Regions from separate parts of the Homo sapiens genome. Here regions 2 and 3 are each linked to region 1. The links come from fine-mapping of genetic effects on gene expression. A gene starts in region 1. Each other region holds a variant in brackets. All regions are shown on one strand. Distances are from middle to middle.

Region 1 (11,183 bases):
CATAGGTATACATGTGCCATGGTGGTTTGTTGCACTCATCAATCTGTCATCTACATTAGGTATTTCTCCTAACGCTATCCCTCCCCTAGCCCCCACCCCCCGACAGGCTCTGGTGTGTGATGTTCCCCTCCCTGTGTCCATGTGTTTTCATTGTTGAACTCCCTAGGGAAGACCTTCTTGAGGGAAGCACATTGGCAGGAGAGGCCAAAGTCTGAGCAGGAGTTAGCTGGGAATAGAGTGGCACAGCAGCATTCTAGCAGAGGGGCTGCCAGTATGAATCTCCAGTAGGAACTTCCAGAGGAACTGCCAGTATGAGTGAGATGGGAAACACTTTGGCTTGTCTGGGAAGTAGAAAAAGGCCAGGATAGCAGGAATTAGGTGGTGTGAGATAAGGCTGGAGAGACAGGCAGGAGTTGGCCACACAGGATCTTGTAGAACTGAGAATGATTCCAGGAACAGTAGAAGCCTCTGAAGGGCTTTGAGCAGAGGAGGCAGATGACCTGAGAAGTCACCATCTCCCATTCTATCTTAGTGACTTTAAATGCCTGTTTATATTATGCTAATCATGGTTCTTTATCGTTCCTGAGAACAGGATATGGGAATGGCCAATAGGGCGGAGTTTGATAAGCCATAAGGATAAACTTCACTGTGAAATTCTGTCCCTGGAGGGGTCCAAGAGTGAATGACAGCGTGTTGCACCTGCCTTGAGGGAGCCGCATAGACATTTTGAATTCCATTACAACTTTATCTGAAATGAAATACCAAGATTTCCCTACAAGGTTCATGACATGCTGAGTTTTTTTTTTCCTCTTTGGATGTTTTGGTATTTTACAGCCTGATATGGCACTGAGCTGTGAGACGAAAATTTTTAGAAGTTTAAAAAATGAGAGCATTAAAGCATTAATCTACCTGAGAGTGGCAAAGTCATAGAACCTTAGTAAGCCCACGTTGTACAGAAGACATTGTAGATAATCCTTCAATTACGAGCAGGTAGTATCCAGGTAACTACATACATCTTCTAAGGTGGTCTTCCCAGCAGTCCTTAGACCTTAGCCCAAAGACCCAGGAGAGGACGGGAATACCCTAAGAAGAGCTAAGAAAGTAGTATCAAGGTCTCTTGGGTCAGAAAAGATTTCTTACTGTTTTGTTTTGTAAATTTTATTTTGAAGTCAAGAACATTACTACCTGGTAATGTCAGCACCCAACAATTTTATTTCTCTCTCTCACTTTCTTTGTTTTTGGTTTTTTCCCCAAAGACAGGGTCTCACCCTTGGCCAGACTGGAGTGCAGTGGCGTGATCATAACTCACTGCAGTCTGGAACTCCTGGGCACACGGAGTAGCTAGGACTACAGGTTTTTGCCACCACGTCTGGCTAGTTTTTTATTTTTATTTTTTTAATGTTTAGTATAGACAGGGGTCTCCGTATGTTGCCCAGGCTGGTCTGAAACTCCTGACCTCAAGCCATCCTCCTGCCTATGTCTCTGTCTCTCAAAGTGTTAGGATTACAGGTGTGAGCCACAGCGCCCAGCTTCTCTCTTCGATTAAAAATAAAAACAAATTTCTGTCTGTTAGTTGAAGGCTCAATATTTGCACGTCAGTCGTTTCTTCCCATTCAGTCTACCCGGGAATATTAAAAGGAAAAATAACTATAATTTCTGATAAATTTAAAAGATAAAATATTTTATGTATAATAGCTATCGTTCAAAATCTCTCCAAGATCTGTGTGCATACTTTTCTTATTGTTGTAACTATATTGAATTTAACTTTTTCTTTAACTACCAAGGACTCCAGATTCACCGTCAACTTTCTTCCTGCATTCACTCTTACTGTTCAGTTCTGGGTTAAAAGACAGCGGGGCCTGAACGAAGTGTCTACAAAGCACAGTATTTGGAGAAGCTTTGTTGTTGTTTTTTAAAATAATTTTTTTAAAAAGGGATCCCGGATATCTTTTTTGTTTTTTTAAAAAATCTTTTTCTCATGTACGAGAAATACAGGGAAAAAAAGCAATCAGGTTAATGAATCATTCTGGTTTACTGGATTCCAATTGGTAGAGAATTTAAACTTAAAAACCAAACAAAACGAAAGAGCTCTTCAGTTACCTTATGTCGTAAACGAGTTAAAAGTTTTGTTATTTCTGAAAAATCAAAGAGCACTATCTGTACATGGTCATAACTGCAAAGGAAACAACGGCGTACCCAGGACAGGGGGAGCTTACTTTAAGAAGCTGCGTCTTTCTGGATCATGTTCCTTCGGGGCTGACCCTTTCGGGGAGTTTGGCTTTTAAAGCGCGGATCTCGCGACGCGCGGCTTGCAGGACTGCGGGGCCCGGCGGCCGAGACGCGGCATCCACAGGGGCCCCTCCGCGCGGCCGCGGCGGTGGTGGCGGGAACCTGGGACTGGCCGGCGAGGGGCCCCGCATGGTAACCGTCCCCGACCGCAAGTCATAGGCTGTGGGCACCGCGCAGAGCGCACCCCCCACCGAACTCCCCCCACCCCACCTCAATTCTCGAGACCGAAAGTGCGGAGCGCGGAGTCCTGCAAACTTGACCCCGAGCCAAGGTGCGCGAGGCGACGGCGAGTGTCCCCCGGGCTCCCTGCAGCCCCGGGGCTGGAAGCTCCGGCCTCCGCGCACCTCGTCCTCTGCCCGCCCGAAAGCGAAACCTGGCCGGCGGGCAGGAGGGGAGAGCTCGGCCTCGAGCTCTGCCTGGCGGGGCCCCGGCCTGGAGGCATCCCCGACCCGCACCTGGCGGCGCGACCCACCTACCTGCCCGTCCCCAAGGCGCCGCCAGGAGCAACAGCAGCAGCGGCGGCAGCGGCAGCGGCCGCAGGGCCGGGCGGCCGGGAGCCCGCATGGGCGGCGGGGCTGGGTCACATGTCGGGGGGCAGCAGACTGCTCAGTCCCACGCCCGCTGGGGCCAAGCGCGGCCGCGCGGCCTCAGCTCCGCGCCTGGGGCTCTGCGTGCCACGCTCCAGGCGACCTGAGTCCCAGGGCGCCTCCGCCACAGCCGCGTCCCCCAGGCTTCCCCAGAAACCAAGGGCGAGCGACTCGCGGAGCCCCCACGCGCGCTCCCCCGGCTACCCAGCTGGATGGCAGCGCGAGGGCAGTTCTCGCGGATTTATAGTCCCCAGCCACTCGGCTGTCAGTCCTGAGAGTCTGAGAGTTTCCACCTCTCGGGGTTCATGCCCAGACCAACCAGGTCACTAGGCAGGTAAAACCTCCTTCTGGTAATGAGCGAGGCGAGTGCATTGCAAAGAGATTCTGGTATTCAGGCCGGTCTGATGGTCAGTTAAAGTTCAATATCGGAAGACGGATGAAATAGAGCGTTATTTCTCGATATACAGTTAGGCACTCAGCCGTAGATCTTACAGTCATGCATCATTTAAGATGACAGGATTACCTCCTGAGAAATGTCTTAGGCGAGTTTCTTGTGTGAACATCTTAGAGTGTACTCACACCTATATGGTATAGCCTCTTACACGCCTACGCTATATGGTACAGGCTGTTGTTTGCTCCTAGGCTACAAACCTGTACGGCAAGTGACCATACTGAATACTGCAAGCAATTGTAACACAATGGTAAATATTTGTGTATCTAAACATGTCTGAACGTAGAAAAGGTACAGCAAAAGTACAGTATGAAAGATTTTAAAAATGGTACACCTGTATAGGGCACTTTCCATGAATGGAGCTTGCAGGACTGGAAGTCGCTCTGGCTGAGTCTGTGAGTGGTGAGTCAATGTGAAGGCCTAGGACATCACTGTGTACTACTATAGGCTGTATAAACACTGTATTACACTTAGGCTATGCTAAATTTATTAAAAAATTATTTCTTCAATAATAATAAATTAACCTTAGCTTACTATGATTTTTTACTTTCTACTTTTAAATCTTTTAAACTTTATTTATTTATTTATTTTTGAGATGGAGCATTGCTCTGTAGCCCAGGCTGGAGTGCAGTGGTGCGATCTCGGCTCACTGCAACCTCTGCCTTCCGGTTTTGATGATTGTCCTGTCTCACCCTCCAGAGTAGCTGGGATTACATGTGTGTGCCCCCACGCCCGGCTAATTTGTTTGTATTTTTAGTACAGACTGGGTTTCGCCATGTTGGCCAGGCCGGTCTCGAGCTCCTGACCTCCGGTGATCTACCCTCCTTGGCCTCCCAAAGTGCTGGGATTACAGGCGTGAACCACGACACCCGACCTAAACTTTTTGACTTGTAATAACGTTTGACTTAAAACACAAACACATTGTGCAGCAGTATGAAAATATTTTTTCTTTGTATTCTTTCTATAAGCTTTTTCTATTTTTAAATTTTTCTTTTTCTTTATTTTTTCTTTACTTTTTAAACTTTTTTGTTATAAACTAAGGCACAACCACACACATTAGCCTAGGCCTGCACAGGGTCAGGATTGTCAGTGCCACTGATGCCACCTCACATCCTGTCCTCCTGGAAGGTCTTTAGAGACAATAGGAATTTTTTCAGCTCTATTATAATCGTATGAGACCACCTTTGTATATGCAGTCTGTCACTGACTGAAAAGTTGTTATTTGATTTCATTCAACTCTCACAACCTGCAGTTAGGTCCTGGCCCTTTTTTCAGATGAGGCAAGGGAAACTCAGAAAGTCTAGGAATCATCATGAAGTCCCCCAAACCTGTGAGTGGCCTGTGACCAGTGGTGTGTGGACTTCCACACAAGGCGGTGGGTCCTAGGTTCCATGCTCTTTATAATGGGAGGGGGGAAGGGTGCAATTAAGAGGTGAGTCTTGAAATACTATATGAAAAATCTGAGAGAGGCTCTCAGCTTTGTACCTTTCTAGGTGGTTCTAAAGGTTGGGCACAGCCTGAAGATAGATACACGATTTACCTCAGATGTGTTCCATCTCTTTTGCCCTTAAATGTCTGTTTTCAAATGCTCCAATAAAGGGAAACGACACTCAAATTAGAGCAACTATTGTTTTCTTTTTCTTTTTCTTTTTCTTTTTAAAGGGGGTCTTCAGTATTAAAAAAGATCTTTTTTGGTGAGGAGGGAGTAAGGAGATAGAAGATGGGGCAGGATTTTCTGAGTCGCCTAAGTATGCTACTTTTTCCTTCCTGAAAGACTTGGAAACAGAGGAGGAATCTGGGTCAGAGGGCCCCTTAGGCTGGGATGTTAGCTTCGTGGTGCTGACGTGAGGCCTCTTCAAACCACTTTTCTTGTTTGTTAGCTGGTTCTTTTCCTTTCCACCAAAAGGGGCCCTGAAGGAATCCTGAAAGCTGGATGAGGAAAGAAGGGACTTGCTTCCTATTTGTTTGCTGTTCTTGTCACTAAGGCCCCACAGTGCCTCTTTACCCTGGCAGGGACAGCTAGTTCTAGGAGCAATTGTTTCTAGTTCCCAGCTTCTTCCTGTACTCCCAGAATCAGCTTCACTGCATCTCCTGAGAAATACCAGCACTGAGTAGGCTATGCCCCATTCTCAGAGGTCTGAGTCCCAGTTTCCTGGAGGCTTCGCTTCTGGGATCTGAACCCCACGTCTGCCCTGTGTTCCTTTAACCCTGACGGTGGTAGTTGCTTCTAGTAGTCACTCTGTCTCTTTCAATCTCAGTATTCCTGCTTTACTTTTTTAGTACTCCAACATCTGTTTAACCAATTCCTTACAGCAAATTCTTTCTGTTGAAATAACTAGTGTGGTTTCTGTTTTCCCAACTGGACTCTTATTGATTCCATTGTAATCCCAGAACGTTTTAGGAAGGACTCTGTGTGATCAGTACATTATCAATATTATCTTGAGTTGCTGTTGTTCTTACTTTTTGATTATAAATTGTATTAGTTTACTTTCATCATTATCATCTTAAGTCTTGTGGGTTAAATAGGGTAAATATTTGCTACAAAAGTGTTTGGGGCCAATCATTTTTGGATATCTAAATTTTGTATGCATTTCTATTCAAATATGAATCGTTCAGACCCTTCAAGAGGCTAAAGCAGACCTATACAAAGCCTTCCCTTATCTCCTAAGTCTTCTGAACTTGAACAGTGACATTTCATTATTTCACCAAGTTTTTCCTCCAGCTGGAAAGTGGGAACGGGGTAGGGGATGGAGTAACTGCGACTTGGAGTTTCTTCCCCCATGAGTGGGCTGTCAATTGTCTGAGAACAAACAGTTTTCTGCATGCCTCTCGTCCCCTCTCTCCTTTCCTCTTCAAGTTCCCCTTGGCACTTGTCAGAAGGCAGTCAAAATTTTACCTCTAAGGCTTGTCTTTTACGTGTTCACAAACTCACCACTCTGTCCTCAGAATGGCTAGGGTTCTACAGGATGAGTGTGACCTGAGAACTTGCCATGTATTCAGTTGATGTTTCCCATGCATTGAAATAAAGAGTGGAGTCAGTTTTTCTTTTGTTTGCATCTGTGACCCAGAACTCACCTTAGTGAGTTTCCTTAGTATCTTCAAATCTAACCTCTTACCCCCCTCTGCTAACTTTGGGAAGCAGCAGTCTTGGTTCCTCCCCATCTAAGCCTCCCAGGCAATATAATCTTCAGTGTGTTCTTCAGAGACTTTTGAAATGATGTTTTCGAATTGAGGTTTTCTTCTACTTCTCAACTTTGCAACTCCTCTTGCCATGATTTACCACATTGAGATCTTAATTTTGTGGAACCTGATGTATAGGATTTCCAGGCTTCCCGATGAAAAAGGCCATAAACCACTACTCCTTACCTCCCACCCCAAACACTAATACCACAGGCAAAAAATAATTTTTTTCTATCCTAGTTTAATTACTAAATAGTTTCCAAGGATAATACATACTAATAATACGAAGTTACTGAATTCTTTCTTTGAGTCAGATCCTACCTAAGAAATTTAAATTTCCTAACTACCTCCTTCAATCCTTACAACAATTCTGAGAGTTAGTTACATTACCCCAAGTTTCAAAACAAGGAGACAGACTTGGACAGGTCATTCGTTTAATAAGCAACAGAAACTGGAAACTGAATGCTGGTTCATCTATTTTCAAAGTTTGTGCTTTTAATAATTTCCTTATATGCCTCTTACACTTGAGAAAATGTTATGATTTACCTTTTATAATTAGGTCTACAATACATTGAGCTAATTTTTGTATATGAGGAAAGAGTAAAGATTAATTTTTTTCCATATAGATATCTTACTGGTTTTTGAGGTCTGAACTGTAAAACAGCATGAATATAATTGCTAAAGGCCTAATATTCAGCATATGTAATGAATTGCTTCAAACAAATTAAAAACAAAATAAAAAGACAATCTAATATTGAGTTTATATAGGTTACACACCACTTAGTTGCCACTGTCTTCTTCTGAGAGAGGAAGAAAAACCCTAGCTCCCTAATGTCAACAGATTTCTTGGAAAGTAAATTAATTCTCTCAGGAAGGCAAAGGGGAAAGTACCTACCCTGGAATATAAACATTTGGCTATGGTGGGGAGATAAATTTTATTACTCTCTGAATGAGACCAGATGGCTCCAGATCTAACACCCTTGCAATGTGAGGAGCAAATGATTCTGTGGAAGAGGAGACAGTCTATGGCATGCCAATTTTCTTTGCTCAGGGAGACAAACCATCCAGAAACGTGAAAATATTCATGTTTCCCTGACGTCTCATTATTTGAATATACTCCATTTGATTGCCCATTCTCCGGTTGATAGACATTTGGGTTGTTTCATTATTGAGTTGTAGGTGTCCTTTATGTATTCTGGGTACAAGTTCTTTGTCAGATATGTGCGTTGCGAATATTTTTGCCCACTTCATCACTTGCCTTTTCATTTTTACAATGATGTCTGCAAGAGCAAAAGTTTTTAATATTGATACAGTCAAGTTTTTCACTTTTTTTCGTTATGATTGTGGTGTCTCGTCTAAGAAGTCTTTGTGTATCCCAAGGTTGAAAGAAAGATGGCTTTTCCTAGAAATGTTATAGTTTTAGCTTTTATAATTAGGTCTGCAATACATTGAGCTAATTTTTGTATATGGTATGAGAAAAGAGTAGAGATTTTTTTTCCAAATAGATGTCTTACTGTTTTTGTACTATTTGTTAAAAAGACTTTCGTTCCACATTAAATTGCTTTAGCCATTATTGTTGAAAATCTATTGAAGATATATGTATTGGGTCATTTTTAGATGTCTACTCTTTGGTCTGTTTGTCCATTTTGCATCAATACCATGTTTTAACAAAAGGAGCTTTTTAGTTTTTTAATGTTGTACTTGTATACCGAAAAGTTTCAAAGGCAGTAGTGCAGAGTTTCTGTACACTCCTCACACAGTTGCATCACCGTGGTAAATTTTTAAAACTAAGAAACTTCCATTTCCATTGGCACATTACTGTTAAGCAAACTTTAGATTTTATTTAGATTTCTCTAGTTTTTCTTCTTCTTCTTTTTTTTTTTTGTTTTGAGATGGCGTCTTACTCTGTCACCTAGGCTGGAGTGCAGTGGCATCATCTCTTGCTCACTGTAGCCTCTGTCTCCAGGGTTCATGTGATTCTCCTGCCTCAGCCTTCCAAGTAGCTGGGATTACAGGCACCCACCACCATGCTCAGCTAATTTTTGTATTTTAGTAGAGATGGGGGATTTCACCATGTTGGCTAGGCTGGTCTTGAACTCTTGATCTCAAGTGATCCACCTGTTGCAGCCTCCCCAGGTGAACCACCACAACTGGCCTGGATTTCTCTAGTTTTTCTCTTTTTGTTCCAGGATCCAATCCAGAGTACCATGCTACATCTAGTCGGCATGTCTTCTCAGTCTTTGGTCTGATAGTTTCTCAGGTTTTCCTTTTTTTTTAATGACCTTGACAGTCTTGAGGCGTATTGGCCAGATGTCCTATAGAATGTGCCCCAGTCTGGGTTTGTTTGATGTTTTTTCTCATGATTAGACTGAAGTTAATGGTTTCTTAAAAAAGTATCACAGAGGTGAAGTGCTTTTTTTAATCATATCATATCAAGAGTATATGACATCACATGACATTGATAATGATGTTAACCTTCATCACTTGCTTAAGGAAGTGTTTGCCAGGTTTCTGTACTGTAAAGGTATTGTTTTACGTTTTCCTACTCTGTATTTTAGAAGACAGTCATTAAGTCTAACCTACCCTTGGGGAGGGACAGTGGTGGTGGCCAAAATTAAGCTCCCCCTTCTGAAGGGAGGAAATAACTTTGTATGTTATTTGGAAATCTTCTGCAAGGAAGATCTGTCCCTTCTCTTCTCCCTATTTACTTATTGATTTATTTAAATCATTTATTTAAATTAATATGGACTCAAATGTATTTATTTTATACTTTGGGTTATAGTCCAATGCTACATTCTTTATTTTCTTGCTCAAATTGTTCCAGCTTTTGCCATTGTGAGCTCTTTCAGGTTGACACCTGTGTTGCCTTGATACACCCCCATCCTGTTTTGATTTGTCCTGAGCACTTCCTTACTTTCTGGTAATGTAAGAGACTCCAGCCTCGTCTTGAATTTATCTCTGCTAGCCTTAAAACCAGCTATTTTTCCATGGAACCCTGGTTTATTTTATTGGAGAATGGTATTCCATTGTTTGGAAATTGCAGAATATGAAGGTACTCTGTGTGTGTGTGTGTTTGTGTGTGTGTGTGTGTGTGTGACAGAGAGAGAGAGAGAGAGAAAGAGAGAAAGTTTCTGTGTGCTTTAATCTGGAGGAAACCAAGGAGAAACAATTTCTTAAAAGATGGGTCATTTTTATATAGACAGGTATATATATATGGCTGAAAGCAAAGAAACTTACTCTTTTCTTGATGCCTAAAGAATAGAGGAAGAGTCAAATAACTACAGAAATGGCCCCTTCAGTTTACCCAAATTCCAAATAAGCATTTATCTGGCCCCCAAGTGAGAGTTCAAACAGTGACAGACTCTTCATCTCTCCATCCTTTAATGAACAAATGGAGGATGGGTTATGGGCCAACTGATGGCCTAATGTTGAGGAAACTGCACGGCTCTGGTGTCATATATGGATTAATTCTCAATTCCACTCTATCCAAACAGTGTGGCCTTGGTCTCTGTGTTAGACACTATGATGCACCACCCAGACCCCACTTCAAAGACGGATTTGTTGTCCAAGCTCCTGGGAGTGCTAATATTAGAAGCCTCCAGCTGTCAGCCTTTTCAAGGACTCTCTGAGTGGCTGGGAACTGACTCACCCAAGGTCAGGTCCCTTTCCAAGGCTCAGTTCCAATGACTAATCAGATATGGGACAATGAAGACCTAGTCATCTTGGTCCAACTTGGGGCAATTCTGTCCATTCTAAGTCCAGAGCTCCTTTGGCCAAGGCTGTTGCTGAACCTTCCTCACAGCTCACCTGCATCCACTCTTGCTTCCTTTTCCTCCCTCCAGCAGGTGTTTATCACAAGGGCCCTCCCCAGTAACACCGTACATACTAAAGTCTACCTCAGAGTCTGCTTCCTGGGGAATACACCTGTGATGGCCTCTGTGAACTTCACTGACATCCACCCCCACCCCCAGCCCTATCCCCAGGCAGCCACAGACTACCTTTATAATAAACAATCAGTGGCATCTGGATTTTCTCCCTAGGTTCCTCTTGCTGTAACAATCCCCTACACATTAGAGTTCTTCAGTTTTGTCTTTTTATTCACTTTTCTTCTCACTCTACAATATTTCCATGGGTGATTTCAATTTTTTTTTTTGGTGGGGGTGGGTACAATGTCTGTGGCACAGGCTGGAGTGCAGTGGCACAATCATACCTCACAGCAGCGTTGAACTCCTGGGCTCATGCAGTCCTCCCACCTCAACCTCCCGAGTAGCCAGGACTACAGGTCTGTGCCACCACGCCTGGCTAACTTTTAAATTTTATTTTTATGTTTGTAGAGACGAGTCTTGCTATGTTGCCCAGGCTGGTCTTGAACTCCTGGCCTCAAGTGGTCCTCCTGCCTCGGCTCCCAAAGTGTTGGGATTACAGGTATGAGGCATTGCACCAGGCCAATTTCAGTTTTCAATCTCCAATCTAGGCCTCTTTGTTGAGCTCTAGAAATCCCTCTCTTAATTCCCCAGCTCTACTTGTAAGTCCTATGTACCTAAATTTCAACTTGTTCCAAGCTGAACTCATCTGTACAGTGTCTATATTTTCTGTTACCCAAGTGAAAAGTCTGGGAGTTCTCCAAGACTTCTGTGGCTCTACTCAAGCATTATATCCTTCCATCTTCATCTTCA
Region 2 (5,000 bases), 35 kb before region 1:
TGTTTGTAAGATTTCTGTGACTTGAAAAGTTGGTGATAAATGACAACAACATGACTTGATAAGTGGAAAATCAGAGATGTGATTAGAATGATCTAGAACAGAGACCAGGCGACTTTTATCCTAAAGGTCTGGACAGTAAATATTTCAGGCATCGCAGGCCATATGATCTTTGTTGCACTACTCCACTCTTGCTGTATTGCGAAAGCAATCTAAGGTAACTGTGTAAACAAATGAGTGTGGCTTGTGCCCCAATAAAACTTTATTTATGAATAGACATCAACATTTCAATTTCCTTTACTTTTCCAATGTCACAAAATATTCCTTGGATTTTTAGAAACTATTTAAAAATATAAATACCATTCTTAACTCTTGGCTTGTAGAAAAACAGAAAGGGTGTTGTTGGATTTGTCCCAAGGGTAGTTTTCTGACCTCTGATCCGGAAGGGCTCCTGGACTTATGGAGCACTTGCAGAGCTCATTATGGCAGCCCTGAGTGGGTCCTTCATGACTGAGTCAGCCATAGCTCAGGGGATGGCAACATTTTAAAAGTAAATACCAGGAAGAAGTTGCCTTAATTCTGGGTTACACTTGGAAATTACATCATCACACTACCAAGTTCATACAAGAAGAAGCATAGTGGATAATCAGGACAATGTTTAATCAATCTTGTGGAGACATTAATAGTCCATAAACCCACATTAAATAAAGTCATTTTGTTCCTCAAATTACATAGCTTCCACAAAGTAGTAAGACAAAGTCAAAATTTGATATCATTGTCATCTAGTATCAATTTTGGATCTGGGAGAGATCTTAGAGACCACTTGGTTAAACCTTTCACTCTAAAGATGAGACTCAGGCTGGGTGCGGTGGCTTATGCCTGTAACCCTAACACTTTGAGAAGCTGAGGTGGGAAGATAGCATGAGCCCAGGAGTTTGAGACCAGCCTGGCAACATAATGAGGCCCTGTCTCTACAGTCAATCAATCAATCAGTCAATCAAGGTGAGACTCAGAGCCAGCAAGGTTAAGGACTTTGTCCTGCTCACTCAACCCACTGGTCCAGAATACAGCCAAGCAGAGTACCTTCCTCTGGGCAAGGCTGTCTGTGAGGCTGAGACTGTTAAACCTGATATGAATACATGTTTAACTGACCATTGCAATAATGGCATTACTTACTTTCTAAAAAAGGATAGAACCGTCCACTTTCAGCCCATTTGGAACACTTTGTTCCCCAAATGGCCTTAACTTTGGCATAATACTGGTGTTCGTAGTCAGAAGTTTCAGCAGAAAGATCACAGTAGGTTCTATTGATATTTCTGCATTCTGATTTATTCAGCCATTTCTTTTGCCCATATCTGCTAAGAAAGAAGCTGAATTAATAATGAGGTGCCCTCTATACTTTACAATAAAAAAACTCAGTCATTTTATAAAACTGAATGGAACTGACGACCTTCTCTTCAGAAAAACAAAAGTGCCTGTCATTGAGATAAAAAAGAATCCACTTTTGCGGTGGGCAATTTTTTTCATCAGCTGTCAGGAACATGAGTCAGAGTTTCTGTAATCACCTTTCTTTCTGTGAATTATAATGTGGACAGTATATTTTGGAAGCATATATTTTACTGTTATTCTTTGGCTACAGTGAAATTTTTACATATTGTGTGATCAATTCTTCTAGTAATTATCTGTGTAGGTTTTTAGTCTACTATGTACACGAGGTCAGTTTGACGGATTGTTTGAAGAACAGTTTGTCATTTTTTTCTTGGAAGAAAAATTACTTTGACGTTCTCATAGCATATAAAAATCTAAGTATCAATGATTCTAGGGAAAATACACGAGGCTGGAGTGCATACAGAAATCTGCATTTTTGATAATTATAGTGATGATGATAATATTGACTAGATTGGTCATACTGATTTTCCTTTTCTTTATTAAAAACACAACCCCCATAGCAAATAGGGAGGTGGCAATATTTTCAGCCCTTTTCAGGTGGGAGAGACTGAAGTGTAGAGTTCAGGTAACATGTGATAAGCCAGTGAAAGGGACAGGGGAGGCAGTTTGGGAAAGGTGATGGGTTACAAGTGGCAGCCTAGGGAACAGCTGAGAGGACACTACAGTGGTCCAGGGGAAGATGTAGGTCGCTTGGACAAGGACAGGGGCAGTAGGATAAATAAGGACAGGACAAAAGCAAGAAATATTAGGAGATAGGACTTGGTGATAGAAAACATGTAACAGATTAGGGAAATGAAGGTGTTAAGGATGCTGTCTCTTTCTGTCTGGGGCAGATGGGTGGAATGGTGGTGATATTTACTACGAAAAAGAGCACTGAGACAGAACAGATTTGGGAAATGGATGGGGAGGCAGAGCAGGAGGGGAAGATAAGATGTTCACTTTTGATGCCTTGAGCCTGAGTATGTTAGAGATATCCCACTGCAGATGCCCAGTGGGCAATGGGTCTCAGGAGAGACATGTGTGTGGGAGGTAGGGATTTTGGAGTCAATGTCATCAAACTGCTCATTGATGGCACAAGCATGAATGAATGATCCATGGAAACAAAATAAAGTCTAGGATAAAATTTCAGGAGCGTCAAGATTTAAAGGTTGGATAGAAAGAAGACCTGGAAATAGCAACTAAAGAGGGATGAGAAAAAAATATCATAAAGGTCAAGGGAAGAGTGTGTCTTGAGAAAGAGGATATGTCCATGTATTGCCAAAGCTTAAGGATATTTTCTCTTTTCAGAATATGGCAACAGATTTCTGAAAGTAAATGTTTCCCATTTCCTAAGTACCATACCTACCAAAAGACATCAGAAATATAGTCAGATCTTACTGATCAACTTCTCCATCCAAGTGATCACTGTTACTTAAGGGCTTTCAATTTTTTTTTTTGACCATGATCCACAGGGAAAAGAAAAATACATTTTATATTGTGATTCAGCTCACAAAATATAAAACTATCTAACATATTAAAACAAAAATTGTACAAGAAAATATTTAAACTTTACCACATGCCTTGCATTCAGTTATTTTTCATTCCAGTCCATTCCACACCATTCCATTCCTTTCCATTAAAAATAATATCCCTCAACATTCATTTCATGAGTCATCAAAGAGTC[C/T]TGAATTGTGGCTTGAAGACTATTGCCATTGCCTATGTGGCCCCTCCCTCCTCAAACTTCCTCACTCTGCCAAAGGCAAGGCAGCTTCCCATGACAGATGCTGATGCAGGAGAAAAGGCTCTTTACAAGATTTTCAACAAAATAAATGAATGATGACCAGAATCACTCAGCAAATATTCCAGTAATGACACTCACGCATGGCAAACAGCCATATGGGGCCCTCAGTGGTCTCTGATTTACAAGCTTTATCTCACTAATTATCATAACAACCCTAGGGGGTAGGTACTCTTATTTTCATCCCATTTTACAGATGAGACAGCTGAGGCTCAGGGAGATTAAGGGATCCACTCAAATTCACATGACTAGTAAACAGCATTCCTGGGATTTGAACCACTCTTCCCTGACGCCAAAACTTCTGTTTTTAGTGCTACATTCTATTTTTTTGCATTAATTGTTTTGGTGGATAGAATTTAAACTTTTGGAAAATTTTCACCTTGGAAACAAACTTCACTCAAAAGTATAAAAGTATAATCTGTAACCTTCCCAGCTAGGTTCATAGCCTGGCTATGAACTGGGGACTGTCTGACTCCAGAGCTGAGCTTGGAGCCCTCTGGCAGTGAAATACATTGTCTTATATTCCTGTCCCTCTTTCACATGCACAGGCATGTAAGAACTCCAACATCGCAAGCTTCTTTTTAAAAACATATTTTTAAAAGTTGCACAATCTGAGTGATCTGCTCACACGAAGCAGTGATGACTCTTGTCTATTTTTTAAAAATCCCTTTCTGGATCACATAAAACATAAAGGACAGAGCAAGCTCTTTGCTCCACCTAATGGATAAGGAGGCAAGGACATGCTCACGAGCCTTTTCTCTGCAAAGTGATTTCTTTCCTCTAACACTGGCTCCTGAGAAACTCCTTGGAAATGAGAATGAGGTTCTAGATAAATGAGGTCACTGTGAGTCGCTGCTGAAGTCTTTCACTGGTTTTAGTTATCTGAATTTTTTTTTCAAAGACAAAACTGACTTTATTCTTTTTTGAAAATATGGTAAATTTTTTTAATTCAAACAATCAAACAATTCAGAAAGTATAATCAAAAGAGAAACAAATCATCCTAAAACCCATTACCCTGGAACATTTGGTGTGTATGATTCTGGATATCTCATTGTGCTTCTGTATAAACAGAAGGACGATATGATAGCAGAATAGATGGACAAAAATTAGATTATACCATACATATGGTTTTAATAAAAGTAGTCAATTCAATGTGCCTTGAACTTTGATAGAAAAAAGAAATTGAAGTGAGATTAAAGAAACTACAGAAGTGCAAATGTTTGTCACCACAAGACATATTTGTTCCTAAAAGAGCTTTTAAATTAAGAAAATGGTTTGTGAAAAATATTGAGAGGTTAATTATTAAAATAATAAAATATTGTCATTTTAGATGACATTTAATGGCTTCTGGCTATGAAAATCAGTACACTTATAGTTCCCCCCCCCTTTTCCACCTTATATTATTGTTTAAATTCAAATTATTTCTAAGAAACTTCTATAATTACATTTCCATCACTATTTAGTCTTAGTTCTACACTGAGATGAATTCCATGCATGCTACCAGTCTTTTGGTCATCACTAAGTTCTTCTTTTGGGTTTGTCTTTATCTCTCTGTTAGCTGGAGGTCGTCTTTAGTTAGTGCTCCACCTCATCCTCCAGGAAGATCTCAGAAAAGTGATCTCCTGAGTTCCCACCTGCTTCCAAACACCAGTCTACTGAACTTCGTAAGAGTCTTAGGTTATACTTGTCTTTTCCTCACAAGATATATTCTGTTGAGTGTTGCCAGATTGAAATTCTCCCTTTCTCTCAACTTGAGTTCTGCTTTTGCTAAAATGGC
Region 3 (11,400 bases), 84 kb before region 1:
TCTGCACTCACCTTGCAGTATTGTGCCGGTGGGCGTGTGGCATTACATAGCAAATTACAAGCACCAGGAAGGGGCAAGAGAGAAACCGTGAGGGGGAGAAAGAAAAATCCTTTCTCTTGGTTTTTGCAAAAGGGACCCCACATTGTCATTTTTCACTAAGCCCTGAAAAGTAAGTAGCAGTCAGGAGCCAATGCACTGGTTCACCACCAAAGCCGGCAACTCAAAAAGCCCAAAGGAAGGCAATCTTGCCAACAACCAGAACGCTCCTAAGAACCTGCAGGAGCTTGACATCCACAGGTGAAGTCAAAGTTTCTCCGGCCAGAGTAAGCATCTAGGCGATTAAGCAGCATCCAGGTGGGGGTGCCTGTGACACCTGGAGCCCCAGAGGGCTTGTTACAGTGCTCTTTTAGCTCTGGGCTCTAGCGCTTGGGCTTCAGCTCTTAAAAGCCATGAATAGAGTAAGGATGAACTACAGGGTGTGGGGATAGAATAAGGGACTTAGTTTTTCAGAGAAGTTAAATGATGTAGAGTTTAGACTCTGATGCCAGGTGGTCATGGTTCAAATCCCTTTCATCCATTAATACCATGACCTTGGCCAAGTCACTCAATTATTCTGAGCTGCCAGATAAGGATCTGTGGAATCATTTCTTGATGAGTCTGATATTTTGCTTCTTTCCCATCTTTTCAGTTATTAAAAATTAAATAAAGTTATTATTTAAAAAGTGGAAATACTTCAATTTAGTCATATTTCTATCTGGTTAGGTTACAATGCCTTATTTCCCTCTATTGATGTCAGTCATGCTTCTGGTGGTTGCACGACAATCCTAATATAAGTGAACATAGGTATAATCTTGGCATCGAGAATGCCATTTATATGCATGATAGGGACGGGGGCAGAGAAATTCTAGGCAGAAAAGTGTGGTCCCTGACGAAATCTCACCCTCAAGCCAAAAAGCCTGAAACCCGTGGTCCAAAGTGAGAACTTCTATCCCTGTTTTCCCATGTGAATGCTGCCTTTCCCTAAACTACCTATGGCCCACTCTGCCCCTATCCTGTGCATAGAAGACTCCAGACTCAGCCAACAGAGAGGAGAAGCAGCTGGGCGTTGGGGTCTAGGGCTGGAAGTTGGAGAGAAGCAGCTTGACTTCAGAGGGACAGCTTGAGCTTCAGAGAAGAATTTGGAGAAGAATCTGGCCAAAGACAGCTGGACTTCAGGGGAAGATTACCTATCCCCCATCCCCTTTTCAGCTCCCCTTTCCACTGAGAGGAGACGGCTGGACTTCAGGGGAAGATTACCTACCCCCCATCCCCTTTTCAGCTCCCATTTCCTCTGAGAGCCACTTTCCTTGGCAATAAAATCCCCTGCATTTACCATCCTTCAATTCGTTCATGCGACCTCATTTTTCCTGGATGCCAGACAAGAGCTTGGGAGCCACAAGTGTGGACATAAAAGGCTGTCACACTGGCCCTTTGCCCTCGCTGGTGGAGGGCAGTCGTCTCACACGACGAGGCAAAGGGCTCACTGAGCTGTTAACACTTAAGCCATCAGAGGACAGCAGAGCTAAGAGAGCACTGTAACACGCCCTCTGGGGCTCCAGGTGTCACAGGCACCCCCACCTGGATGTTGCCATGGGGCCCGCACAGAGCTTGCTCTTGCTGGTGCCGAAGCGGCTGGCCAGTTCCAGGCCTCGTGCACTCCAGTCCCCGCCTTGTTTGCTCGTGCACTCCCTCCTGTGAGGAGTGGAGAGCTGTGGGCTGAGTAAACGATGCACCCCTGTCTCGAGTCCCACAAAGGGGTCAGGCAAATATCCTGCCTCGTGTACACACACATATCATTTTTTTCTTTTTTGGGGGCGGGTACAGGTAAGGGAGGAGACCACCCCTCATATTGTCTTATGCCCAATTTCCGCCTCCAAAGAAAGAAGTAAAAACTAAAAGGCAGAAATGAAATCCACAGGCAGACAGCCCAGTGCCGCGCCCTGGGCCTGGTAGTTAAAGATCGACCCCTGACCTAACCGGTTATGTTATCTATAGATTCCAGACATTGTATGGAAAAGCACTGTGAAAATCCCTGTCCTGTTCTGTTCTGTTCTGATTACTGGTGCATGCAGTACCCCCTGCTTGCTCAATCCATCAGGACACTCTCACACGGACCCCCTTAGAGTTGTAAGCCCTTAAAATGGACAGGAATTGCTTAGTGAGGAGAGCTTGGCTTTTGAGATGCAAGTCTGCTGAAGTTCCCAGCCAAATAAAGCTCCTTCCTTCTTTAACCCAGTGTCAGAGGAGTTTTGTCTGCGGCTCGTCCTGCTACACAGGGTCTCGCTCTGTCACCCAGGCAGGAGTGCAGTGGCGGGATCAGGATTCACTGCAACCTCCATCTCCCAGGCTTAAGTGATACTCCCACCTCAGCCTCCCTAGAAGGAGTAGCTGGGACCACAGACGCATGCCACCATGCCCAGCTGATTTTTGTATTTTTTGTAGACTGGGTTTCACCATGTTGCTGAGGCTGGTCTTGAACTCCTGGGCTCAAGCGATCTGCCCACCCCAGCCTCCCAAAGTGCTAGGATTACAAGTGTGAGCCACTGTGCCCAGCCACATATAACTTTTATAGGGCAAAAAAATTCTCCATTACCAAGCTTATTAAAAATTGGGGGAAAATATTTCAACATCTGTATCAGACAAAAGGTTAATATAAATAATAAGGAAAAAATTATAATCGATAAGAAAAATTTCAAAACTCTATTAGAAAAAAAAACAGGAAAGGCAATTTGCAAAAGAATTACAAATGATTATTACCTAACAAAGAAATGTTCAACTATTAATCAATAGAAACAGATATTTGAAAAGCTTCTACTTCTCAGTCTGACAAAATTTTATCAGCATTGGCAAGGGTGTGGTGGAAGCAGATGCTCTTACATCCTGTTGGCTTGAGGCTTCCCGAAGGGCGCTTGGGCTTCAGCTCTTAAAAGTATTAGAAAGTGAATATTCTTTGATCTGGCATTTTACTTGTAGGTATTTATCCTGAAGAAATAAATAGACATAGATATACCTGTGTTTATCAGGAGTATGGCCACTGTGATTTATACTAGTGAAAATTGTTAACAGCCTAAATGCTCAACAATGGAGATTGGTTAAATATATAAATATATATTTATAAACATATAAATAATAAATACTATGATATAATACATATATATTTGTAGATATACGTATATGTATGCTATACATATATGTATAGCTGGACTATATGGATTACATGTATATAGGATTTTTAAATTATTAAAATAATTATATAAATGTATATTAAGGCTGGGTGCAGTGGCTCACACCTGTAATCCCAGCACTTTGGGAGGCCGAGGCAGGAGGATCACTTGGGGCCAGGAGTTCGAGACCAGCCTGGCCAACATGGCAAAACCTGTCTCTACTAAAAATACAAAAATTAGCCAGGTGTGGTGGTGCATGTCTGTAATCCCAGCTACTTGGGAGGCTGAGGCATGAGAATTGCTTGAATCTGGGAGGTGAAGGTGGCAGTGAGCCAAGATTGCGCTGCTGCACTGCAGCCTGGGTGGGACTATCTTAAAAAAAAAAAAAAGTATAGTAAGAACCTGGAAGGAACTTTACATTATACATTTTTAAGTGAAAAATAGCATGTGTGTATTTTGGAAAAGCAGAAAAGGTTTTAATATTAACCGTTCGTCTGATACAGATATTGAAATATTTTCCCCAGTTTTTAACAAGCACTGTAGTTTGGTGCATGGAATCAGAAGTCAGACTGCTTGGCTTTGGATCATGGCTCTGTCCCTTTCTGGTTCCACCTCTTAAAAGCTGTGTGACCATGAGTAAGTTACTGAACATATGAACAGGACAAGAACTCTGGACGTGTGGGGATGGAAGGTGGAACTGAGATTCGAGTCCCATTTGAGCGCAGAGCCTGTATTCTTAACTTCTGGGCTACATGGAGCCAAAATAAACAGTGGCAGAGAGAGAGAGAGAGAGAGAGAGATGCAGATAAATAAAGATAGTGAAGGGTATTGGATCGATTATGTTTTAAGTACTTTCAAGGCAAGATTTTACTTTGTCTTTGAATTCCCATCATTTAGTTCCACACCTGGTGCATAATAGACACTCATAAATGAATCATTGGGTAGGGTCATAGGCGTGATGCAGAGCAGAAATGCTTAGGTTCTAACAGTGGGGCCATGGGTTGGCCATTCAGATTTGTAACTAAAAGAAAGAAAGAAAGAAAGGGCCGGGTGCAGTGGCTCACGCCTATAACCCCAGCACTTTGGGAGGCTGAGGCAGGCAGATCACCTGAGGTCAGGGGTTTGAGACCCTCCTGGCCATCATGGTGAAACCCCATCTCTACTAAAAATACAAAAATTACCCGGGCATGGTAGCACACGCCTGTAATCCCAGCTTCTCAGGAGGCTGAGGCAGGAGAATTGCTTGAACCTGGGAGGTGGAGGTTGCAGTGAGCTGAAATTGTGCCACTCTACTCCAGCCTGGGGGACAGAGTGAGACTCCATCTTAAAAAAAACAAAGAAAGGAAAGACAAAAAAGAAAAGAATAGGGAATCTTCTAAAATGAAAAAGGGGCACTAAGAGAGAGTGTGGAATATGGTAGATGAAGGGATCAACTCCTTTCGGACCCACAACCTCTTCTTTTTAAGGCTGCTTGAACTATTTATTAGTCTGTAATTAGAGTCCCAAGCGTTTCCTTCTGTTTCCTAAAGGGTTGGAAAAATGCCCCGAGGGCTTGTCACCATAGGCCTTCCCCACTTCTAATCAGCCAGATGGCAGCTGCAGGAAGTGGCAGCTAAAGCAACAATCACAATGTGGTGTTGACAGTGTAGATCTTCCACTGAATGGGGAGTATGAGGAAGCGTAGACAGTGGAGTTTTTCAGCCTGGATTTTAGAATTGGTTTTTGTCAGTTGGGCTTTATATATTAGTTGGGAATAACTAAATAATTTAAACAACAGCTATTTGATTATACTAATCTATTAGGCCAGAATCGAAAAGTGCCTTTTAAAAAGTCCTCCTGGATTAAAAATTTCTCTTAGAAACATTCATAATTCATTGCTGCTCTTACTAATGTCAAAATCTTACTGACTCAGTAAATGGCAAAAGGTGCATGTGGTGTTTGTGCTTATGTATTTATTTCATTATTTATTTGGATATGGGATACTGCATAGAAAGAAAACACACTCTGACTCGTTAGGTATATAAATCTCATAATCCTTAAGGGAAAAGAGACCAGGGAAGTGTATCTACCACTGGAGATTTTCTTTGACATTACAGACTTAAATGCTGTCACTGGCCTCCCTTTGCAAGGGCACATTCTGTTCAGATGTGTTAATAGAAAGAAAGCAGAGT[C/T]TAATGAAAATGCCAGAATGTCCTTTGGGAAGCTGACAAATAGAGTGTGCTGCTGATGTGGACTCAAGCTGCAGACCATCCATAGGCCTATTATTAGAATAGGGACAATGTCCAACCGTTCCTAATTGCTGAATGACATACACCTGCCACTTAATTTCCTCAGTGTCACCTGTGAATTATACCTAAGATCAAACAGCAAGAACATGTATTCATTCAGATATCTGTGTGTCCATCCATCCATCCATCCAGCCATCCATCCATCCATCCATCCATCCTGCCAAAAGATTGAATGTGTTCATTTAAAACTGAATATAGCAGGCTTCATCTGATGGTGCAAATATTTCTTCTTGGATACTGTGATGTGACAAGGTTTTATAGTTAAATAGATTATATTTTTCCATCAAAACAATATTATAATTGAGAGCTTGCTTCTGTTCAAAATATCAGAAATAATTACTAATAAGCTTCCAAATAGTTAGCCAAAGCAACAATATAAATAAAACCCTACAAACTTCTATAATCTATAATATAGCTTAAAAAAAAAGCAAATTCCAAGACATAGAATCTGGGAGATGGCAGAGACTTTGATAATCTTTTCTTTATTTAATAAGAAGTGAGAAAATCAAAGCTCAGAGGACTGGGTGCCACCCACTTAACTTGCCTGCTGTCACCCACTTAACTCAGTAAAGTGAAGGCAATAATAGCCTTGGTCCCCAGGTTCTCAGATCCATGTTCCCTATTTAACATGCTATTCCTGTCCCCAGAAAAATCCTAAGACACATACACGCGTGCTCTCTCTCTCACCTCTCACATTGCTTAAATAAGAGACCACAACATACTGTGAAATGCATATGATGTGAAAAGATACAACTATGGTTCGAGTGTCTAAATTAATAGCTAGCCAAAATAAATGTGACCAAAATCACAACTTTAAAAATTGTTTGCTCTGTCAAAAGCTAATAAAATATGGAGGTAACAAGGTAGAAGCCTGTTTCTCTTAACAAAACTGTTTGGGAACATTTGAGTCAGTAATTACATGGACACCATTTTCTGCCCCACCTAGACCAAAGTCTATTCATTCCTTTTTCCTTCCTTATAGAACCCTCATTTTATTTGGGTCCCTGCCACTCCCCTGCCCCTGGGCGGTGTCTGTGCCTCAGGGGAAGCCAACACTTCCAGGTCCAGGTCCTGCAGGTCTCAGGGGTATTTCAGTCCCTTGCTTGTGATTGGTTCTGGAAAAGGCACTTCATTCAAGTCAGGCAAATGAGACGATACTGGAGGGGAGGCCTAGGGGAGCTTCCAGAAGGTGCTCTCTTTTAAGGTTACTTCATGAGGAAGTAACTTATAAGGTTACTTCACGAGATTGGCCACAACACCTCACTACCTAAGTGACTTCCAAGGAAGCCAGCTCACATTGTTTATCATTTCAGCCCATTGAATGTTCCCAGTGGAGACATTCCACAATGGAGACATTCCACAATGGAGACATTCCCAAAGGAGAATTCCACAGTGAACGTGAATTCAGAATCCCTGCTCCAAAGGTGATTAGGGTATAGACTAGAGTTTCCTGACTTTTTTTGTCACCTCTCTAAAGAACCTTTTTAGATTTTTTTTCTGATATCCTCCCCACAAAATTCAATACCACAAACATACTGCTTATCTGCGTGTGTACTCTGTGTGTATCTGTGCCTTACACATTAACATAGTAAGATATTTTTGTTTCCCAAGAACAATTTTTGTCTTCTGGAAGATGGTATCATCTCCACCAAGAATGGCTTAGAGGGAGAGACAGGCTGTCCTAAAGAGAGGTATTAGGATGAGGATATCCCTAGGATGGGGGTACCCACTCATTTACAGAAAGTAGGGGCATTGCAAATTCTTTTACAAAATTGCCATTGACGAATATGAATATTTAAAAGTCTCACCACGGACTTTATTTGGTCTTGAATTCATTCCATTCCATTGTTTTTTTCTCATCCCCCTTCATATTCTCACACAACAGCAACATCCTAGCAGCCTGGAAAGAGAAAAGAGGCACAAAGGTCAGCTTGGGATAGCATGGGGGTGCAGGGTCCTAAGCCTTGGCTTTGTTGGCAAATCGCCTTCATTTCTGTCATGTCTCTGAAATGTCTCTCCCATCTTTCTCTTCTTTTTCATCTTCTTTGCCACCATCTTTATAAGCCTTCATCACCTCTGATCTGGGTAATGGACTCTCTTTTCTTTTTTTTCCTTTCTTTCTTTTTCTTTTTCTTTCTTTCTTTCTTTCTTTTTTTTTTTTTGGAGACAGGTTTTGCTCTTGTTGCCTAGGCTGGAGTGCAATGGCGCGATTTTGGCTCACTGCAACCTCTGCCTCCTGGGTTCAAGTGATTCTCGTGCCTCAGCCTCCCGGTTAGCTGGGATTACAGGCATGTGCCATCATGCCCAGCTAATTTTGTATTGTTAGTAGAGACAGGGTTTCACCATGTTTGTCAGGCTGGTCTCGAACTCCCAACCTCAGGAGATCCACCTCCCTCGGCATCGCAAAGTGCTGGGATTACAGGCATGAGCCACCGTGTCCAACCACGATCTCTCTTTTCTTAAGCATTTATTAAGGACCAACTGTATTTCAGTTGCTATTATAATCTCAATCAATACAGCAACCCTGTGAGTTACATATTAATGCCTTCATTTTACAGATGAGGAAATGGAGGCTCAAGAATTTTAGTGTCTTGCCCAAAGCTAGACCCACCAGTAAGATATAGACAGAGCTGGGGCCCAGGTAGGCCAAGTAGTACAACTTACGTCCATACTCCTTCTACTGGATTTTGTAATATCTTTAATGTGTTTAAAAAAATCACACAAGTGATAAATGAATACATTCTGTTTGCAAACAAAAAAAGATGTAATAGGTTAATGTTCCCATTAATTATCTCTCTCTATTCTTATTTTCCCCACCTCCATTCCCCAAGGTAACCACTGTCACCATTTGATGTGGCTCTTTCCAGATCTTATTCTAGAAATTTCATATATCTATCTGTGCCTCACTGCACACGAGGGACCAGAACAGGATGGTGGCGCTCACAAGACCTGGGAGGCGACTGCCCGGATGAATTCCCATGACGCTACATCTTGCATGTGGCTAAGCAGCCTCACTTGGGAATGGGTTAGTTTGTAAATCCTTCTCCTCAGAAAGTACAGGTTTGTGATGTGCAGGTGATTCTATCCTCTGCTCCAGATCATGTAGTGAATATTTAGTATGTTTCATTTTGTTTATGTTTCCATCTCTTTCCCTTCTCTAGATGATTTCTCCTCATCACCTTGTTTCTTCTTTTCTTTCCTTTTCTTTTTTTTTTTTTTTGAGACAGAGTCTCACTCTGTTGCCCAGGCTGGAGTGCAGTGGCGCAATCTCAGCTCACTGCAAGCTCTGCCTCCCAGGTTCAAGCAATTCTTCTGCCTCCGTCTCCCAAGTAGCTGGGACAACAGGCATGTGCCACACGCCCAATTAATTTTTGTATTTTTAGTAGAGATGGGGGTTTCACCTTGTTGGCTAGGCTGGTCTTGAACTCCTGACCTCAGGTGATCTGCCTATCTCCGCTTCTCAAAGTGCTGGAATTACAGTCGCGAGCCACCACACCTGGCCCCTCATCACCTTTTAACCAGAACAGTTAGGTCGTTTTCTTTCTCTTTGTGATGGCAACAGTTATTTTTATAGCTGTCTGGGGAAGGTGCTTAGGTAAATATCAGTTTGAGCTGTACAGTAAGCTTAATATAGCCCTTTTCTATGATTGATGAATTCACTACCTTCTTTTTTTGCACTTTTTGTTCAGTCAATAGAACTCGTGAATTAGTGATAGGGAAGTAAATTAGTTTAAGGTTGACAAACTTCCTAGAACCACACCCAGGGATTACACTAGATCAGATACACATAGTCACCCCTGCTCCTGTACATTGGTCCTCCAACCTTCTACTTCCCTGCAGTGGGGCATGCAGAAGGAAAAGGGACACATCTGTGAGGGAAGAAGATGATGCTGCTGACCGGCATAGACACAGGCACAGGCACATAGGGTCCGAATCTGGAGGGACCTACCATAGGAAGCTGTGGTGTGCACCCCTAGAGCCACTATGCCATGACTGTGCCTCCTTGGAGCCACCATCCAGCCTGGAGATCTCCAGGTAGAGTTCTTGGTGGAGATCACACAGGACAGCAATCTGTGGCCATAATACTATTAAAAAGGGGGCAGGGGGCAGTTCATCTTCCTGCAGAGATGGAAGTCAGATTTCCATCTTCCACTTAGATTATGGACAAAGACATTTTCTCTACATTGGTGTTAGTTGGGGCACGGGACCAGGGGGTTAAGCTAACTAGCTTGAAGGGATGTGCAAAATGACCAAGAAAGGGTGTTAGCCACTGCTTACACCCCCTTCAGTTAGCCACTGCTTACACCCCCTTCATGTAGGGGCAAAGAGACAAGAAGGTTCACACATGTGATCTGTCCCAGGAACGTAACAGAAGGTTAAGAACTGAAAGAGAGAGAGAGAGAGAGATAGAAAGATGGGTTCTGTGGTTCAGAAATCACTCCCCACTCTGGTGGGAGTCGGAGATTGGCAGTCAGATGCTGCCACACTTGCTACCATAGGGATGACTGTCATGCCGCAAGGTCTAGTCCAAAGCACATTTAGTTCCCGATGTTAAAGAGGGCTGGGAGGAAGGTGAGTGGTCTGAGAGATGAGAAGAATGCAGACAGGAGAACCAATCTGGTGACATTTTGGTCAAGTGTGCTGTCTTCATTAATTTTCGGTCTCAGGATTCCTAATTATGGAAACCAGCCAATACGTATTTTCTTCAGCCGTTCATCCCTAAGTCCTTCCGGGGCTGGACAGAGGTAATATAACAACTGTCGCCACACGGTGGCAGCAATATCTTCTTGGCTGTGCTCACCTAGCCTAGTGGGTGCTTTTTCTGTAACTGCAGAAGCCATGGCTTTCTCCCCGCTGGGACTTGCTGTTTGAGGAGCTGAGGCGCCTCACAGCACTTATTACAAAGAGTTTTCTTCATGTTTTTCTTTTTCCTTAAATGAATGCCTTGGAAAATATGAGGTTATGCATTACCGGGTAACTTTTTGCTTTTGTTTTTGTGTTGAGGCAGGGTCGCCAAAACAAAAACTTGCTCACTCTGTCGCCCAGGCTGGAGTGCGGTGGCGCCATCTTGGCTGACTGCATCCTCAACCTCCCAGGTTCGAGTGATCCTCCCACCTCAGCCTCCTGAGTAGCTGGGGCTACAGGTGTGCACCACCACATCGGCTAATTTTCTATTTTTTTTTTTGTAGAGATGGGGTTCTCATGATGTTGCCCGAGCTGGTCTCAAATTCCTCGGCTCAAGTGATCCTCCTGCCTCAGCCTCCCAAAGTGCTGGGATTACAGGCTTGGGCCACCATGCCTAGCCAGCGGGTACCTTTCTGTCTTTTCCTAATGGCTAATAATTTAAATCTAACTATATCTGTGAAGCCAGTGGTTTTGCCACAGGATGAGGAGGCGCCAGGGGACGGGAAGGTGACCAGATGTTCTAATTGAGTCAGCCTTGGTTCTGGCAATGAGCAGGTGCTCTGGAAGAAGTCCCAGGCAAGCTCTGCTGTGCCCCTTATCTGAACCGAGCTGATGAGCTGGCCCCCGTCCAGAGGAGGATGACCAGAGCAGAGAGGGATCTGGAAACCAGGAGTGACAGGGACGTGTGGAAGGGAAGGGGATGTTTGCAGAGGAAGGGATGACTTGAACACTACAGTTAAATGTTGGAAGGGTTGTCATGGAGAAGAGAGGTCGTTAGAATCAGGTCGGAAGAACTAGAACTAGTATGCTAGTTTGGAAGGGACGTTAGGAATCCCATCAAACACACTCCTCATTTTACAAAAGAAGAAAATAAGGCTGAGAGAGTGACACTTGTCTGGGGTCACGCCGTTGGCTGGTAACAGACAGACAAAGGACTAGGATACAGCCCTTTGATTATACCCAAATATGGTTGCCCATCAGGTTGTAAGCTATAGGGTGGGTGA

Evidence for each region. PIP is the estimated chance that this variant, and not a neighbour inherited with it, causes the effect.
Region 2: its variant is fine-mapped to the expression of IL20RA in esophagus mucosa (GTEx, PIP 0.98).
Region 3: its variant is fine-mapped to the expression of IL20RA in left ventricle (GTEx, PIP above 0.99). The same link has a PIP of 0.9 or more in atrial appendage.

Annotation. Positions count from the first base shown.
Region 1 is chr6:137,041,876-137,053,058 of GRCh38, forward strand. IL20RA (interleukin 20 receptor subunit alpha) reads right to left here and starts at 3,090. Exons shown (of 7, transcript NM_014432.4): 1 at 2,766-3,090. The coding sequence starts at 2,853. RefSeq lists silencers at 2,583-2,632, 2,703-2,812, 2,843-2,902.
Region 2 is chr6:137,010,101-137,015,100 of GRCh38, forward strand. IL20RA (interleukin 20 receptor subunit alpha) reads right to left here. Exons shown (of 7, transcript NM_014432.4): 3 at 1,174-1,352. Among named protein-coding and RNA genes, the nearest start is that of NHEG1, 19 kb to the left of the region's middle. The variant C/T (reference allele first, on the strand shown) is at 3,110.
Region 3 is chr6:136,958,066-136,969,465 of GRCh38, forward strand. No RefSeq gene overlaps it. Among named protein-coding and RNA genes, the nearest start is that of NHEG1, 29 kb to the right of the region's middle. RefSeq lists an enhancer at 198-764. The variant C/T (reference allele first, on the strand shown) is at 5,375.